Homo sapiens: one gene and its partners. The protein of the gene in region 2 interacts with the protein of the main gene of each other region in a pairwise test. Each region holds a gene or a part of one and is shown on either strand. Other genes may lie near its edges.

The links.
Region 1: the proteins of TCHP (region 2) and KRT34 interact in binary tests that used the Homo sapiens proteins (3 or more experiments, as listed by UniProt).
Region 3: the proteins of TCHP (region 2) and MIPOL1 interact in binary tests that used the Homo sapiens proteins (3 or more experiments, as listed by UniProt).
Region 4: the proteins of TCHP (region 2) and KRT32 interact in binary tests that used the Homo sapiens proteins (3 or more experiments, as listed by UniProt).

What each region holds. Positions count from the first base shown.
Region 1 is NC_000017.11:41,379,507-41,383,660, forward strand, and holds the start of KRT34 (keratin, type I cuticular Ha4), read right to left. Parts: upstream 2,801-4,154; 5' UTR 2,745-2,800; coding exon of another isoform or gene 2,741-2,744; coding exon 2,393-2,740; intron 2,290-2,392; coding exon 2,207-2,289; intron 1,707-2,206; coding exon 1,550-1,706; intron 226-1,549; coding exon 64-225; intron 1-63.
Region 2 is NC_000012.12:109,910,274-109,913,773, reverse strand, and holds part of TCHP (trichoplein keratin filament-binding protein), read right to left. Parts: intron 2,712-3,500; coding exon 2,539-2,711; intron 784-2,538; coding exon 702-783; intron 1-701. UniProt on the Homo sapiens protein: Tumor suppressor which has the ability to inhibit cell growth and be pro-apoptotic during cell stress. Inhibits cell growth in bladder and prostate cancer cells by a down-regulation of HSPB1 by inhibiting its phosphorylation.
Region 3 is NC_000014.9:37,204,437-37,207,936, reverse strand, and holds part of MIPOL1 (mirror-image polydactyly gene 1 protein), read right to left. Parts: intron 1-3,500.
Region 4 is NC_000017.11:41,464,587-41,468,756, forward strand, and holds the start of KRT32 (keratin, type I cuticular Ha2), read right to left. Parts: upstream 2,801-4,170; 5' UTR 2,740-2,800; coding exon 2,272-2,739; intron 1,591-2,271; coding exon 1,508-1,590; intron 1,344-1,507; coding exon 1,187-1,343; exon of another isoform or gene 173-1,186; intron 1-172.

The sequences.
Region 1 (4,154 bases), on a different chromosome or scaffold from region 2:
GACCCTGTCTCCAGGGCCCTGGGGCACCTCGGGTCCTGAGTGGCCATGTGCTTAGATGCCCACCTGCGTGGCGAACCATTGCTCCACTTCCCTGCGGTTAATTTCCACCAGAGCCTCATACTGACTCCTGGTCTCGTTCAGGACCTGGTTCAGGTCCACAGTGGGGGCAGTGTCCACCTCCACGTTGAGGCGGTCTCCAAGCTGGGAGCGCAGGGTGTTAACCTCCTGTTGGAGAAAAGGGAAACAATGAACCTACGGCAATGGATCTGCCATTTTCCTGCTCCAGGGAAATGAGCACAATACTGCCCAAAAAGCACTAAAAGGAATATTCTGATCATTCCCAAAGAGTGACACACACATTTTATAGCAATAAACTCCAACAGGGATCACATCAATTGCTGTCCCATGGAAGATGTGCCATCTTCCTGCTCTGGGAAAATGAGCTTGATGCTGCCCAGAAAGCACTAAAAGGGGCCGGGCACAGTGGCTCAAGCCTGTAATCCCAGCACTTTGGGAGGCAGAGGCAGGTGGATCACGAAGTCAGGAGATCGAAACCATCCTAGCCAACATGGTGAAACCCCATCTCTACTAACAATACAAAAATTAGCTGGGCGTGGTGGCATGTGCCTGTAATCCCAGCTACTCAGGAGGCTGAGGCAAGTGAATCACTTGAACCAGGGAGTCGGATGTTACAGTGAGCCTAGATCACGCCACTGCACTCCAGCCTGGTGACAGAGCATGACTCCGTCAAAAAAAAAAAAGCACTAAAAGGAAGATTCTGATCATTCCCAAAGAGTGACACACACATTTTATAGCAATAAACTCCAACAGGGATCACGTCAATTGTTGTCCCATAGAAACGGAAACAACCTCACACCTTCTACAAGACTAAGTCTAAACTCCTTGGCATATGCAAGTCCTTCCTCGCTTCCCATCACATCTTCACTTTCATCCCTTGGAGGTACTGCATGCCCAGCCATACCCAGATACACCCTGCCCTGCCACTTCTGTGTCTTTGTTCAACCTCTTCCCTCAGACTGAAACACCCAAGTACTGGAATCCTCCTCTTTGCATCTGAGAAGAGTTCCCTATCTCCTCTTGGGCAGCCTGGATTATTTCTAGAGCATACTGCTTGTACATCTCATATGGTACTTGTTTCACTCTGTCTTGTTTATATCACTGTGTTTATATGACTGTCTTTCTATACTAGACTGTGAGCTCTTTTAAGAAAAGGGCCATGTCTTATTTCTTTTTTGTCCCTCCATCTCCACCACCAAATTCAGGACCTAGCAGTGATCAGCAGAGAGCAGGGCTCAATGAATGATGTCCCTCCTCAGTAATTCCAACACCTGCCTAACCCTCACCCAGCCGCTGAAGAATGAGCAGCTCACTCCACTCCTTGATATGGATGTAGCACCGTCACTCTCTGAGAACATCTTGAGTTCCTCAGAGAAGGGTCCCAGACCAGGGATCCAGACAGTAATCCTCTCCTGATTCCCAGTGCTAGTAGCTTAGTTCTGAGGCCTGCTTTTGTGAATTTGTTTCATACCTCCTCATGGTTCTTCTTCAAGCAGATCAGCTCCTCCCTCAGGGACTCCACCTGGGACTCCAGGTCAGACTTGCAGAGGGTCAGCTCATCCAGGATCCTGCGTATGCTGTTGATGTCCGACTCCACCAACAGCCTCAGGGACTGCTCCGTCTGGTACCTGCACGTGTCGGAGTGGGAGGATAAGTCAGGAAAGAAAACCACCTTCCCCTCTCATGTGTTGTTTGGGTAGAATTGGCCTGAATCTTCTTGAACTTACAGTTTTCTGCCTCTTCTCTTCCATATGCTTCAGTCAAGCTGTCCATGGATAGGCTGAAGAGGTTCCCTGACTCACCTAACACCACGAGGAGCCCACAGGCACACATGAGATGAAGTCTCTCACTGTGTTCTCGGTTTTGTTAGCTAATATACCACCAAATCAATTCCCAAAGAACAATTCATTTCAATCTCTGAATTTTGTGGTTTAAGAAACACTTCCAAAAAAAACCAGTATAGACCAAAGAGCAGGCAGCACATGAGTCTAGTTCCCTATTTGAAACTAATTTTACATAACCAGCCCTAGGAGGAGAAATAGAGAGAAATGGCTTTCTCCTCTCTTCCAGGCAATAGTAGGTCCCTAGGGCCATGAAAGAACCATAGGGACCTTGAAGTTCAACATACTTGCTTCTGAAGTCGTCAGAGGCCAGCTTGGCATTGTCAATGTTCACCACCAGCCTGGCATTCTCAGCCTTGGCACACAGAATCTGAAAAGAAATTTCTCTCATGAGGTACACTTGAACTTGAAAATGTCTTACTGTTCAAAGAGAGCCAGCTGCTGCTGGCCCCCCATATGGCCAACCCCCTCACCTTCTGCTGGAGCTCCTCAATGGTCTTGAAGTAGGACTGGTAGCTGGGGCACAGCAAGGGCTCCTGCTGCTGGGACCGCTCCTGGATGAGTTTCTCCAGCTCCGCGTTGTCCCGCTCCAGCTGACGCACCTTCTCCAGGTAGCTGGCCAGGCGGTCGTTCAGGAACTGCATAGTCTCCTTCTCGCTGCCATTGAAGGAGCCCTCACAGAACCAGTTGCAGTTGCTCACATTGGCGGGGATGTTGCAGGCCCCAGGCAGGGTGTAGCCGTGGCAGCTGGGGGGCACGCAGGGCCGGGAGGAGCAGCTGGTGCGGCAGCCCAGGCTGGGCAGGCAACAACTGTAAGACATGGTGCTGGAACAGGTAATGGAAAAGCAGGTAAGCTGCTGGAGGTGGATGTGGGCAGGTTTGAGTCTCTCCTTCCTCTGCAGTCCTTTTATACCATTAATTGTGGGTGGGGGCTTGGCATACAGCATAGTTTCCTTTCCTAATGCTTCAGCTAATTTTTCTCCAAAATATGCTAGTTAGATGCTTCTAAAGAGTCCCCCCTCAACCCATAAAATTATTCCATTCAGCTTATGTCACACCAGGCTCTTCCTGGGTGCTAGTGGTTGGTGAAATCAGAGTTTCATCAGATGGCTTCATAGGAGATAGAATCATCACAGCCCCAAAAGGCTGTCTGCATTACTCAGAGGGGAGGACAGCCAGGGACATGGGGTGGAGTTGTTTGGGAATCAGGGATTCCTCACCCAGGAGTTTCCGCCACTGTTCTTTCTCCCCAGAGAGAGAGCTCTGAGAGAGAGCTTTGAGAGTTACTCTTCCAAGTAGCTCTTTCCTCCCACATTCATCCATGTTTCAGCATTCAATTTGTTTTTATAGCAGAAACTCAACCTGTATTCGCCGAAATGATCCTGAGCCTTACTATTCGTTGGGGTTTAGGGAACTTGCCAACACATGGAGCAACTGAAAACAATGGCATGTTCATGGTTGAGAAATGAGAAAGTAAAATGGAAACCAATGGAATGGATGGGAGTATACCTAAAAGAGGGCATCTGCAAATGGCAGCCCACACGTCAAGTTTACCCTGCTGAATTTTTGTAAATAAAGTTTTTGTTTGTTTGTTTTCTGTTTTTTTTTTTTTGAGACAGAGTCTCACTCTGTCGCCCAGGCTGGAGTGCAGTGGCACGATCTCGGCTCACTGCAACCTCCACCTCCCGGGTTCAAGCAATTATCTGCCTCAGCCCCCCGAGTAGCTGGGATTACAGGTGCCCGCCACCACACCCGGCTAATTTTTGTGTTTTTAGCAGAAATGGGGTTTCACCATGTTGGCCAGGCTGCTCTTGAACTCCTGAACTCGTGATCCGCCCGCCTCGGCCTCCCAAAGTGCTGGGATTACAGGCGTGAGCCAATGCGTCCGGCAGTAAATAAAGTTTTAATGGAACACAGCCATGCCCATTTGTTTAGCTATTGTATATGGCTGCTTTTGTGCTACAGTGGCAGAGTTGTGTAGTTGTGACAGAGACTATAGTGTCCACAAAGCCCTAAAATTAAAAAATTTGCCAACTTGTACTAAAGCAACAGCCTCTCTAAAGATGAGCAAGAGTAGAAATATCTAGAAGAAAAAATATGCTGGAAACAGTCTGGAGCAGTGAGAGTTCAGATGGCAGCACTGAAGCATGAATATGAAGCATAATACTGCAGACTCACCAAGAAACGAAAATTGGAGCAAGGGTGCTCAGAGGTATCTTTGTATCCATGGTGGCT
Region 2 (3,500 bases):
AAAATACAGCATACTACCAGACACAACGTAGAGTTTCTCATTTGAAACCACTTTACAACAGCTTTCAGCCCATGGGTAACACTCTCTCTTCTCCTCCCAGATTTCTCTGCGGTTGGGGTATATCTTCCACGCACAGTGTACACACTGACCAGGAAAGCAGTTATGTCCTCCAGGTCACGGCTGTCATCTACCCCGAGGGGGGAAACGTGTGGGAAGAGCCTCAGGCACCAAGAGGCTCTCTGCAGCGTTTCTCAGAATGGCTTCCAATTAGAACAACACAGCACACCCATAAGAGGGAATGGAAAGGCAGCGGGTGACAGAGGACAGTCCGTGATACAGCCCCTGACATGCCGTTTATAAAGATGTAACAGCATGTCACAACGCTTGAAGCCAAATAGCACAAGACAGTAAGAAATACATGTAGAAAAAATGTCAGGCATAGAAACAGAAGAGCAGACAGAAGCAGCAGCTACGGCTGCATACAGGATGGGCTCTGGGGGACTTTTTTCCATTTCTACTTCCTGTACTTCTGAATTCTTTTCTACTAAGCTCATATTACTTTTTCAATGATTTTTAAAGCCCACTTAAAATGACCAGAGAAGACTCTGTTCCCAGAGCATCTGGCAGGGTGACTGACCATGGACTTCCAGACACCTGCCCAAGACCCAACAGCCGGTCCACATCGCCGCAGCTGGGATTACCTCGCTCATCAGTCTGTCCCGTGCGCTGCGCTCTCGGGCCCACTCTGCCTCTCTCTTTTCCCACATCTCCTTGGCCTCCTCCCTGGGCAAACACAAAAGGGATGACAGCAGGCTCCTCCCCGCCCTGGCAGGAAGCGAGCTACGGAACAGACAGGGCTGCAGGGCACATGGCTTCTGCAGGACCACACTGCAGATAAACATCCACATGCACTTTGAAAAGATTACAATTAAGGACAGCATCCACGGAAAGTACTGTTGGAAGTTTTTCATTTTTTTTATTTTTGAGATGGGTCTCGCTCTGTTGCCCAGGCTAGAGTGCAGTGGTGCGATCTCGGCTCACTGCAACCTCCACCTCCCAGGTTCAATCGATTCTAGTACCTCAGTCTCCTGAGTAGCTGGGATTACAGGCATGTGCCACCATGTCTGGCCAATTACTGTATTTTTAGTAGAGACAGGGTTTCACCATGTTGGTCAGGCTGGTCTTGAACTCCTGATCTCAAGTGATCTACCTGCTTTGGCCTCCCAAAGTGCTGGGATTACAAGCGTGAGCCACCGTGCCTGGCCCTGTTGGAAGTATTTTAAGTTACCCTTTTAATACCCCATCTCCTTATAAAAAGGAATTGGGATGACTTACACCGTGGCTGTTTAACACAGAGATGAATGAAACCATCAGAACATGGAGAGGAGGGCGCTGCCTGTGCCTGAACCCTGCCACCGCATGCCTGTGTCACTGATAGCTCACCCTGGACGGAGTGACCTCTTCAAGTCTCCGGGTCTCACAAGCCACCACTTGGCTGGATGTCAGGACTCAGTAAGATGAGGCCTGTAAAGCACCCGGCACAGTGTCCAGCATGCAGTAAGTGCTCAATGTATGCTACTTATTATTTGATGATTTCAATCTACTAGTTTAGTCTTTAGGACCCAAACTCAGTTTTATAGATGTAAGCAGCATTCAACATCTCTATAATAACTTCCTTCTGGCTGGGCATAGTGGCTCACGCCTGTAATCCCAGCACTTTGGGAGGCCAACGCTGGCGGATCACAAGGTCAGGAGTTCAAGACCAGCCTGGCCAAGATGGTGAAACCCCATCTCTACTAAAAATACAAAAAGTAGCCGGGTGTGGTGGCGGGCGCCTGTAATCCCAGCTACTCGGGAGGCTGAGGCAGAGAATTACTTGAACCCAGGAGGCAGAGATTGCAGTCAGCCGAGATCATGCCACTGCACTCCAGCCTGGGTGACAGAGCAAGACTCTATCTCAAAAAAAAAAAAATAATTTCCTTCTAAACCTCTAAGATTTCAGATGAACACATCGTTACTCTAAACCTTAATGATTTCCACCTCAGATAATACAAGGGAAACACCCCCAGAGGCCAGGTCCATTATGAAGATGTGCTCCTCAGGAATGATGGACAACATACACAGCTATCTCTTCTTCTTCTTTTTTTTTTTTTTTTTTTTTTGAGACAGAGTCTCGTTCTGTCACCCAGGCTGGAGTGCAGTGGTGTAGTCATGGCTAATCGGAGCCCCAACCTCCTGGGCTCAAGTGATCCTCCCACTTAGCCTCCCGAGTAGTTGGAACTACAGGTATGAACAACCACGCCTGGCCAATTTGTGTATTTTTGGTAGAGCCTGGAGTTTTGCCATGTTGCCCAGGCTGATCTCAAATTCCTAGGCTCAAGCGATCCACCTGCCTCGGCCTCTCAAAGTGCTAGGATTACAGGTGTGAGCCTCCACGCCCAGCCAATAGATATTTCAGTAACAGGTGACCCATGGGGCATTTCAAGGTATCAGAGTTGAGGCCAGGAGCATCCAGCCCAGTCAGCAGCTGCCACTCACCTCAGCAGCATCTGCAGCTCTGCCTCCCGCGCCCGCTCCAGCTGCAGCTGCTCCTCAATGGCCTGCTTCATCCAGGCCACATCGGCCATGACCTGCTCCCGCCTGGCCAGGTGGAGGCGCTGGCTCTCGTCCTCCTTCTCGAGGAGGGCCTGCAGGATCCGCCTGTCTGCCTCCTAGAGGAAGCAGAGGGCGGCACGTGGCTGGGCTGGACAGAGTCCTTCTGCAATGAGAGCCTACAGAGGGGCCTGCCCTCCCTTTCCTTTCTACATAGACATTCGTGATTCTACACAGTGTTCTCAAGACAGAGATGGGAAGATCCTGGATTATTTCTGGAACAGACTGGGGATAATCACGAGGGGTGGTTCAGACACTGCACAGGCCTAGGAGCTTCTCTCTGGCTAAAGGGAGACCCAGCCACCACCACATGCCCTCGGATACACCTGGTTGCACAACTTTTTGGAATACAACTTGGCAAAAATCCCACTTATAAGAACAAAGACCACAGTGACACAAAAGTGCAAAACACTCGTTGCAGCTTTTAGGTAAGAGGGAAAAACCAGAAACAACCAAAATGCTCCTTGGTGGGGAATTAGCTACTATGTACATCAACATAATGGAAGCATTAAAATAATGCAGGAGGCTGGGCACTGGGGCTAATGCATGCAATCCCAGCACTTTGGGAGGCTGAGGTGGGAGGATCACTTGGGCCTAGGAGTTCAAGACCAGCCTGGGCAATGTAGCAAGACCCCATCTCTACAAAGCATTGTGATGTACACCTATGGTCCCAGCTACTCGAGAGGCTGAGGTGGGAGGATGGCTTGAGCCTGGCAGGTTGAGGCTGCAGTGAGCCGTGATTGCGCCATTGCAATCCAGCCTGGACAACAGAGCAAGACCCCATAAAAAACAGCTGCACACCAGGACCAACCATGCCACTGTGCCCCATGTCCTGCCCTGACCGCAGT
Region 3 (3,500 bases), on a different chromosome or scaffold from region 2:
AGCAATTAAATTATAACCAAAAACAAGTATGGGATTTATAGTTAAAACTGTTAATAATTGGTTTTTCAAGATATAAAAATAGCATGCCCTCAGCCTGGCATGGTGGCTCACACCTGTAATCCCAGCACTTTGGGGGGCTGAGGTGGGTAGATCACCTGAGGTCAGGAGTTCAAGACCAGCCTGGCCAATGTGGTAAAACCCCATCTCTACTAAAAATACAAAAATTAGCCAGGCATGATGGCACGTGCCTGTAATCCCAGCTACTCGGGAGGCTGAAGCACAAGAATCGCATGAACCTGGGAGGCAGAGGTTGCAGTGAGCCAAGATCGTGCCACTGCACTCCAGCCTGAGCAACAGAGAGAGACTCCATCTCAAAAAATAATAATAATAATAATAATAATATCATATCCTCAAATAAGTTTAAACTGATAAAAACAGATTAAAGCTTTTCTGATATTAATGAATAGTGTAGTTGTCTATTGCTACCTATATTAGTCTGTTTTCACACTGCTGATGAAAACATACCCAAGACTAGGCAATTTGCAAAAGAAAGAGGTTTAATAGACTCACAGTTCCACATGGATCGAGAGGCCTCACAATCATCATGGAAGGTAAAAGGCACATTTCACATGGTGGTGGCAGGAGAGAATGAAAGCCAAGCGAAAGGGTTCTATAAAACCATCAGAACTCACCTGGACTTATTCACTACCAGGAGAACAGTATGGGGGAACTGCCCCCATGATTCAAGTATCTCCCACTGGGTCCCTTCCACCACATGAGGGAATTACGGGAGCTACAATTCAAGATGAGATTTGAGTGGGAATACAGCCAAACCATATCATTCCGCCCCTGGTTCCTCCCAAATCTCATGTCCTAACATTTCAAAACCAATCATGTCTTCCCAACAATCCCCCAAAGTCTTAACTCATTTCAGCATTAACTCAAAAGTCCACAGCCCTAAGTCTCATCCAAGACAAGGCAAGTCTTTTCCACCTGTGAGCCTGCAAAATCAAAAGCAAGTTAGTTCCTAGATACAATGGGGGTACAGGCATTGGGTAAATACAGCCATTCCAAATGGGAGAAATTGGCCAAAATGAAGGGGCCATAGGCCCAATGCAAGTCCAAAATCCAGCAGGACAGTCAAATCTTAAGGCTCCAAAATTATCTCCTTTGACTCCATGTCTCACATGCAGGTCACACTGATGCAAGAGGTGGGTTCCTACATCTTGGGCAGCTCTGCCCCTGTGGCTTTGCAGGGTACAGCCTCCCTCCCAGCTGCTTTCACGTATCAGTGTTGAGTGTCTGAGGCTTTTCCAGGAGCATGGTGCAAGCTGTCAGTGGATCTACCATTCTGGGGTCTGGAGGATGGTGGCCCCCTTCTCACAGTTCCACTAGGCAGTGCTCCAGTAGGGACTTTGTGTGGGGGATCCAATCCCACATTTCCCTTATGCACTGCCCTACCAGAAGTTCTCCATGAGGGCCCCATCCCTGTAGCAAACTTCTGCCTGGATATCCAGGCATTTCCATATATCCTCTTAAATCTAGGCGAAGATTTGCAAACCCCAGTTCTTGACTTCGGTGCACTCACAGGCTCAACATCACATGGAAGCTTCCAAGGCTTCGGGCCTGCGCACTCTGAAGCCATGGCCTGAGCTCTACATTGGCCCCTTTCAGCCAAGGCTGGCGTGTCTGGGACACAGGGTACCAAGTCCTTGGACATAGCATGGGGACCCTAAGCTTGGTCCATGAAACCATTTTTTCCTCCTAGGCCTTTGGGCCTATGATGGGAGGGGCTGCCATGAAGACCTCTGACATACCCTGGGGACATTTTCCCCATTGTCTTGGGGATGAACATTTGGCTCCTTGTTACTTAGGCAAATTTCTGCAGCTGGCTTGAATTTCTCCTCAGAAAATGGGTTTTTCTTTTCAATTGCAGGGTCAGGCTGCAAATTTTCTGAACTTTTATGCTCTGCTTCCCTTATAAAACCGAATGTGTTTCAGGCACATGTATGTTTATATGGTACTATTCACAACAGCAAAGACTTGGAATCAACCCAAATGTCCAACAATGACAGACTGGATTAAGACAATGTGGCACATTTACACCATGGAATACTATGCAGCCATAAAAAAGCATGAGATCATGTCCTTTGCAGGGACATGGATGAAGCTGGAAACCATCATTCTGAGCAAACTATCACAAGGACAGAAAACCAAACACCGCAAGTTCTCACTCATAGGTGGGAACTGAACAATGAGATCACTTGGACACAGGGTAGGCAACATCACACACCAGGGCCTGTTGGGGGATGGGGAGCTGGCGGGGGACAGCATTTGGAGAAACACCCAATGTAAATGATGAGTTGATGGATGCAGCAAACCAACATGGCACATGTATATACCTATGTATCAAACCTGCACTTTGTGTACATGTACCCTAGAACTTAAGGTATTAAAAAAAAAAAACTGAATGTGTTTTAACAGCAGCCATGTCACCTCTTGAAAGCTTTGTTGCTTAAAAATTTCTTCCACTGGCTGGGTGCAGTGGCTTATACCTGTAATCCCTGCACTTTGGGAGGCCGAGGTGGGTGGATCACCTGAGGTCAGGAGTTCCAGACCAGCCTGGCCAACATGATGAAATCCTGTCTCTACTAAAAATACAAAAAATTAGCTGGGCGTGGTAGTGCATGCCTGTAATCCCAGCTACTCAGGAGGCTGAAGCAGGAGAATCACTTGAACCCAGAGGTGGAGGTTGCAGTGAACTGAGATCGTGTCACTGCACCCCAGCCTGGACAATAAAAGCAAAACTCCGTCTCAAAAAAAAAAACAAAAAACTTATTCCATCAGATATCTTAAATCATCTCTCTCAAGTTCAAAGTTCGACAAATCTCTGGGGCAGGAGCAAAATGCCGCCAGTCTCTTTGCTTTTGCTACAGTTCTCAACAAGTTCCTCATTTCTATCTGAGACCACCTCAGCCTAGATTTTATTGTCCATATCACTATCAGCATTTTGGGCAAAGCCATTCAATAAGTCTCCAGGAAGTTCCAAACTTTCCCACATTTTCCTGTCTTCTTCTGAGCCCTCCAAACTATTCCAGCCTCTGCTTGTTACCCAGTTTCAAAGTCACTTCCACATTTTCAGGTATCTTTTCAGCAGCACCCCACTCTACTGTATTAGTCCATTTACTGTGTTAGTCTGTTTACTGTGTTAGTCCGTTTTCACGCTGCTAATAAAGACATACTTGAGACCAGGCAATTTACAAAAGAAAGAGGTTTAATGGGCTCGCAGTTCCACGTGGCTTGGGAGGCCTCACAATCATCGTGAAAGGTGAAAGGCACATCTCACATGGCGGCAGCAAAAAAGAATGAAAGCCAAGCAAAAGGGGTTTCCCCTTATAAAACCATCACATCTCATGGACTTATTCACTACCATGAGAACGGTATGAGAGAAACCACCCATGATTCAATTATCTCCCACTGGATCCCTCCCACAACATGAA
Region 4 (4,170 bases), on a different chromosome or scaffold from region 2:
CATCCCAGTGCTCTTCAAACTCCAGCTGAATACCCCTGCGATGGGAACCTCACTGCAACACAACACTTCCTATCACTTTGGCAGAAGCCAAGAGCAGCACCCTGGTTTGTTTGATGCATTTGGGCTAAAATGGGAAACCGGTACCCCTAGTATTCCCAGTCTCCCTCCCCACCTGTGTTCATCCTGGGAGGAGGGTAGCAGGAGCCTGGCTTGACTAGTTAAAGGCCCGAGTTAGGGCAGCTGCCTCCCAGGCTTGGCTGCCAAAGAGGGAAAGTTGTCACTGAGTCTGCCAGGATGTGTGATAACTTCTCATTAGTGGCTTCTTGGTGCCGTTCCCAGTTCTCTGATTTGAGCAAGATGAGTCAGGAGCCCGAGGGTGCTCGGTGAGTACGTGGTGACTGATTGTTACTTTACACTTAAGCCTGAGGAAACCCAGCCAAGATTCAGAGGCACTTGTTCATTCAAATCCCAAGTCAAGAGGTTGAGAGTCAACCAGGGAGGGGGGAAAAACACCATGGCTCAGGTGGGCTTGGCAGCACACAGGTGCCCAAAGCAGAGGGCTTCCCCTCCAAGAAACTTCAGGAGATAAGGAAAAATCAGAAAGTAAAGGGCTTCAGCTTGAGCATTTTATATGCAAACAGAAGGGAGGACAAAATAAGGATAGGGGCAAAAAGAGGAGACCACTGCAGCTGTACTCCCTCTCAGAAGAGATGGGACTGCTTCTGAGAGTTGAGCCAGGCAGAGATGGACAGGCCATTCAACGTGAGATCTGGAACATAACTCACCCCGGCACCACTGCACCACTCTACCTCTGCTGTGTGGCTCTCGAGAGAAAAAAATGCAGTTGCCACTAGTGAGTGCTTGGCAGTCACACTAGCCCAGGAAATGCAGAAGGGAAGGGGGCTACACTTCTGAGAGTTGACCAAGTGGCAGGTGTTTCATACCCATGCCTTGGGGATTTCCATGATCCATATCCTGTCCATTAAATCCTCACAATAACCCTGCGTGATCATGTTGTCCCCATTTTACAGAAGAGGAGGCTCAGGAAGATTCCATAAATTGGGCAAAGTCACTAAAACAACATGTGGCAGGCTTGGGAATTTCAACCCACGCCTATCCAACCCCATACCCCACGTTCCTCCCCCTCTGCTTCCCGGGGCCACTTCAGCGGGACTTCCAGCCTCACCTCCTCATGGTTCTTTTTGAGGCACATCAGCTCCTCCTTCAGGGACTCAACCTGGGCCTCCAGGTCAGCCTTGCACAGAGTGAGATCATCCAGGATCCTGCGCAGGCCATTGATGTCGGCCTCCACCAGCTGCCGCATGGCCAGCTCTGCCTCGTACCTGCACAAGGACAGGGTCAGCAACCAAGGGTGAAACAGAATGCAGAACTCAGGGAAGGCCTTAAACTGCCGGCACTTTCCAACCCTCCGTGAAACTAATGGAAAGTTGCCCCAGAGCCTATGAGGACAGGTCCTCCCCAGCTCCAGCCCCCCGACTGAACTCACTTGGCCCTGAAGTCATCGGCAGCCAGTTTGGCATTATCAATGTTCACAACCATCCTGGCATTCTCTGCCTTGGTACACAGAATCTGTAGGCCAAGGCACATGGAGAGGGTTAGTTCAGGATGAGACGAAGCAAGAAGAACCCAAATGAAGAGAAGACAGCAGCAAAGGTAGGATCCAGCAGCCCTGCAGCCATCCCTGCAGAAGGTCCTCTTCCCTGGAACTCTGGGAGATATTTAGCGAATTGCTAGTCCTTGGAGAACTTGAGATGTATTTTTTAAGAACCTGAAGCTTCGTAAATTCAAATTCCCCATTTTGGATGTGCCAAGCAATGTGGAAGGGAAGAATCTCATGTCTGAAGTCACTCATGTGACAGTTAGAAGGGTCTTTGACATTTACTGAAAACTTACCGTGGACCAGGGGCTGTTCCAAGCACTTGACCTGCATCATCTCATCAAATCCTTTTGACAACCCCATTAGATAACGACCATTATTATCCCTGTTTTACAGATGAGAAAACTGAGGCCTGGGGAAGGGATGGGACCCCCAAAGTCATGCAATGAGGCAATGGTAGAACTGAGACTAGATCCCAGATCTCTCCACATGAAAGCCTCAGGCTGAGTGCTCAAATTATAAAATAACCCTATGCCCTAGGGAAGTCTCTTTGTCCTGAACATAGCTTAATAAGCTAACGAGATTCCAATCTGGAATGCCAGCTAGTCCAGTTCCCTTCCCAGAGAGCCTATTCACCTCACCGCTGCCCTCACCTTCTGCTGGAGCTCCTCAATGGTCCTGAAATGAGACTGGTAGTCAGGAGTCATGGTGAGCACCTGGGAGTGAGAGGCCTCTTGGATCCTGCTCTCCAGCTCCGCATTCTCCTGCTCCAGCTGCCGCACCCTCGTCAGGTAGCTGGCCAGGCGGTCGTTAAGGAACTGCATGGTTTCCTTCTCATTGCCATTGAAGGCCCCTTCGCTGTACCAGCTGCCGGGGCCCATGGAGCCGGAGATGCCACTGGCTGCCTGGCAGGAACTGGATAGATAGGTTTTGGAGAGGCAGCTGGCTGGCCGGAAGGTGGTGGGCAGGCAGACCGAAGGCAGGCATGCCATGGGCTGGCAGACATAGCCCAGGCACAGCTCAGGCCGGCAGTTCACGCCGCTGGAACAGACCGAGGCAGGCCGGGGGCAGCTCTTGAGAGAGGCTTGCAAGTTGTTGGTGACACAGCAGGAGGATGTCATGTTGGAGAGGCCCTTTCTCCTCAGCCACAGCTACCTGGATGTCTACAGACCCCATGCCGCCCGGGCCATTTTATGCCCTTGCAGTGAGGGGGCTCATGATAGAAATTCATCATTGGGTGGTGTTGATGTTCACACCCAGCCCCAGAGGAAGCTGCTAATTAATTTGTAATTTGGTTTCCAATAAAAGAGGCCAAACTTATCATTTGGCTAAAGCAGGAGTCTGGGTTCCTGTCATTGATCACCATGAGAGAGCTTCAGGACACATCTTCAAAGGGTCAGCCGCATGCCTGGGCCCTCATTACTAGGGCAGGCCCTCCAGGAGACTGCCACAACCCAGCCTGTGCCTCCACTGGCTTTGCCCACTGCACCCCCGCCTGCTCTAGCCCTGAGAAGCCTGCAGGTCTGTGCAGCAGTGGCTGCCTCTTTTAATGAAAGCATTCCCCATGGGAAGAGGCCTGGCTATTTAACAAGGAAATGTGTGGGTGGTAGAAACTGCTCCGATGCTGGCAGCGGCATAAATCCAGCAGAAAGGAACAGGAACCTCAGAGGCTTCCTAACAGACATCATCTTCCTGCCAAGGGGAAGAAAATAATATCAGTGGGGAGAGAATGAACTCAAGACATAGGCAGCATCACTTCTCAGCCTTTTGGCTAAGATCAAGTGTGGTATCTGTTCTTATCGTCTTAATATCTGATACGTCCTCCATCTGAGGACAACATATTAAATGGATTTTGGGAGCAGGGAGATGGAATAAGAGCTTGCTCTGTTCACTCTACATGTTGACCTGGTATTGCAGTACCTCCAGGAATGCTGCACCCCTTCAAAAGGCAAAAAAAAAAAAAAAAAAAAGACCCAAACAGAAGCCTAAGAATCAGGTACATCTTTCCAGTTGGTCTCTTCCTCTTGGAAAAGTCCATATCATGAACATCTCCAGGTGGCAGCTGCTCTGTCTTGACCCCCTCTGGACCATCCATTCAATTATCACTGCACCATATACACAATTGTCAAGTGCTCAATAATTGTTTGTTGAACAGACTGAGAATAGTTGGAACAGGTTCTACTTTTACTTTCTGTTGTGGCAGATGGGGAAGGCTCACTTCAGGATCTCAGACTATGGAAGCAGTGTGAATCCACTCCCTTGGGAAAGGATGTTCTATAGCCCTGGAATGAGCTAAGCCAGGAGACAGGGAGCATATTTGCCCAACTATAGAAGCCCTGGGCATTCACTTAAGAAGGCAACATGCTAGAGCAGTGGTTTTCAGTCCTGGCTGCAAAAGCTGTGAGCTTCACATTTAGTATGTGTGTGCTATATAGCCACTTTTTTATTCAGTAATCTTCTTGATATAATTTTGGGGTATAAGTACTTGCCTTATGTTTCACATATTCCCAGAAATGTCAGTACAAGAACAGGAAAGGGAAAATGCCACCCAG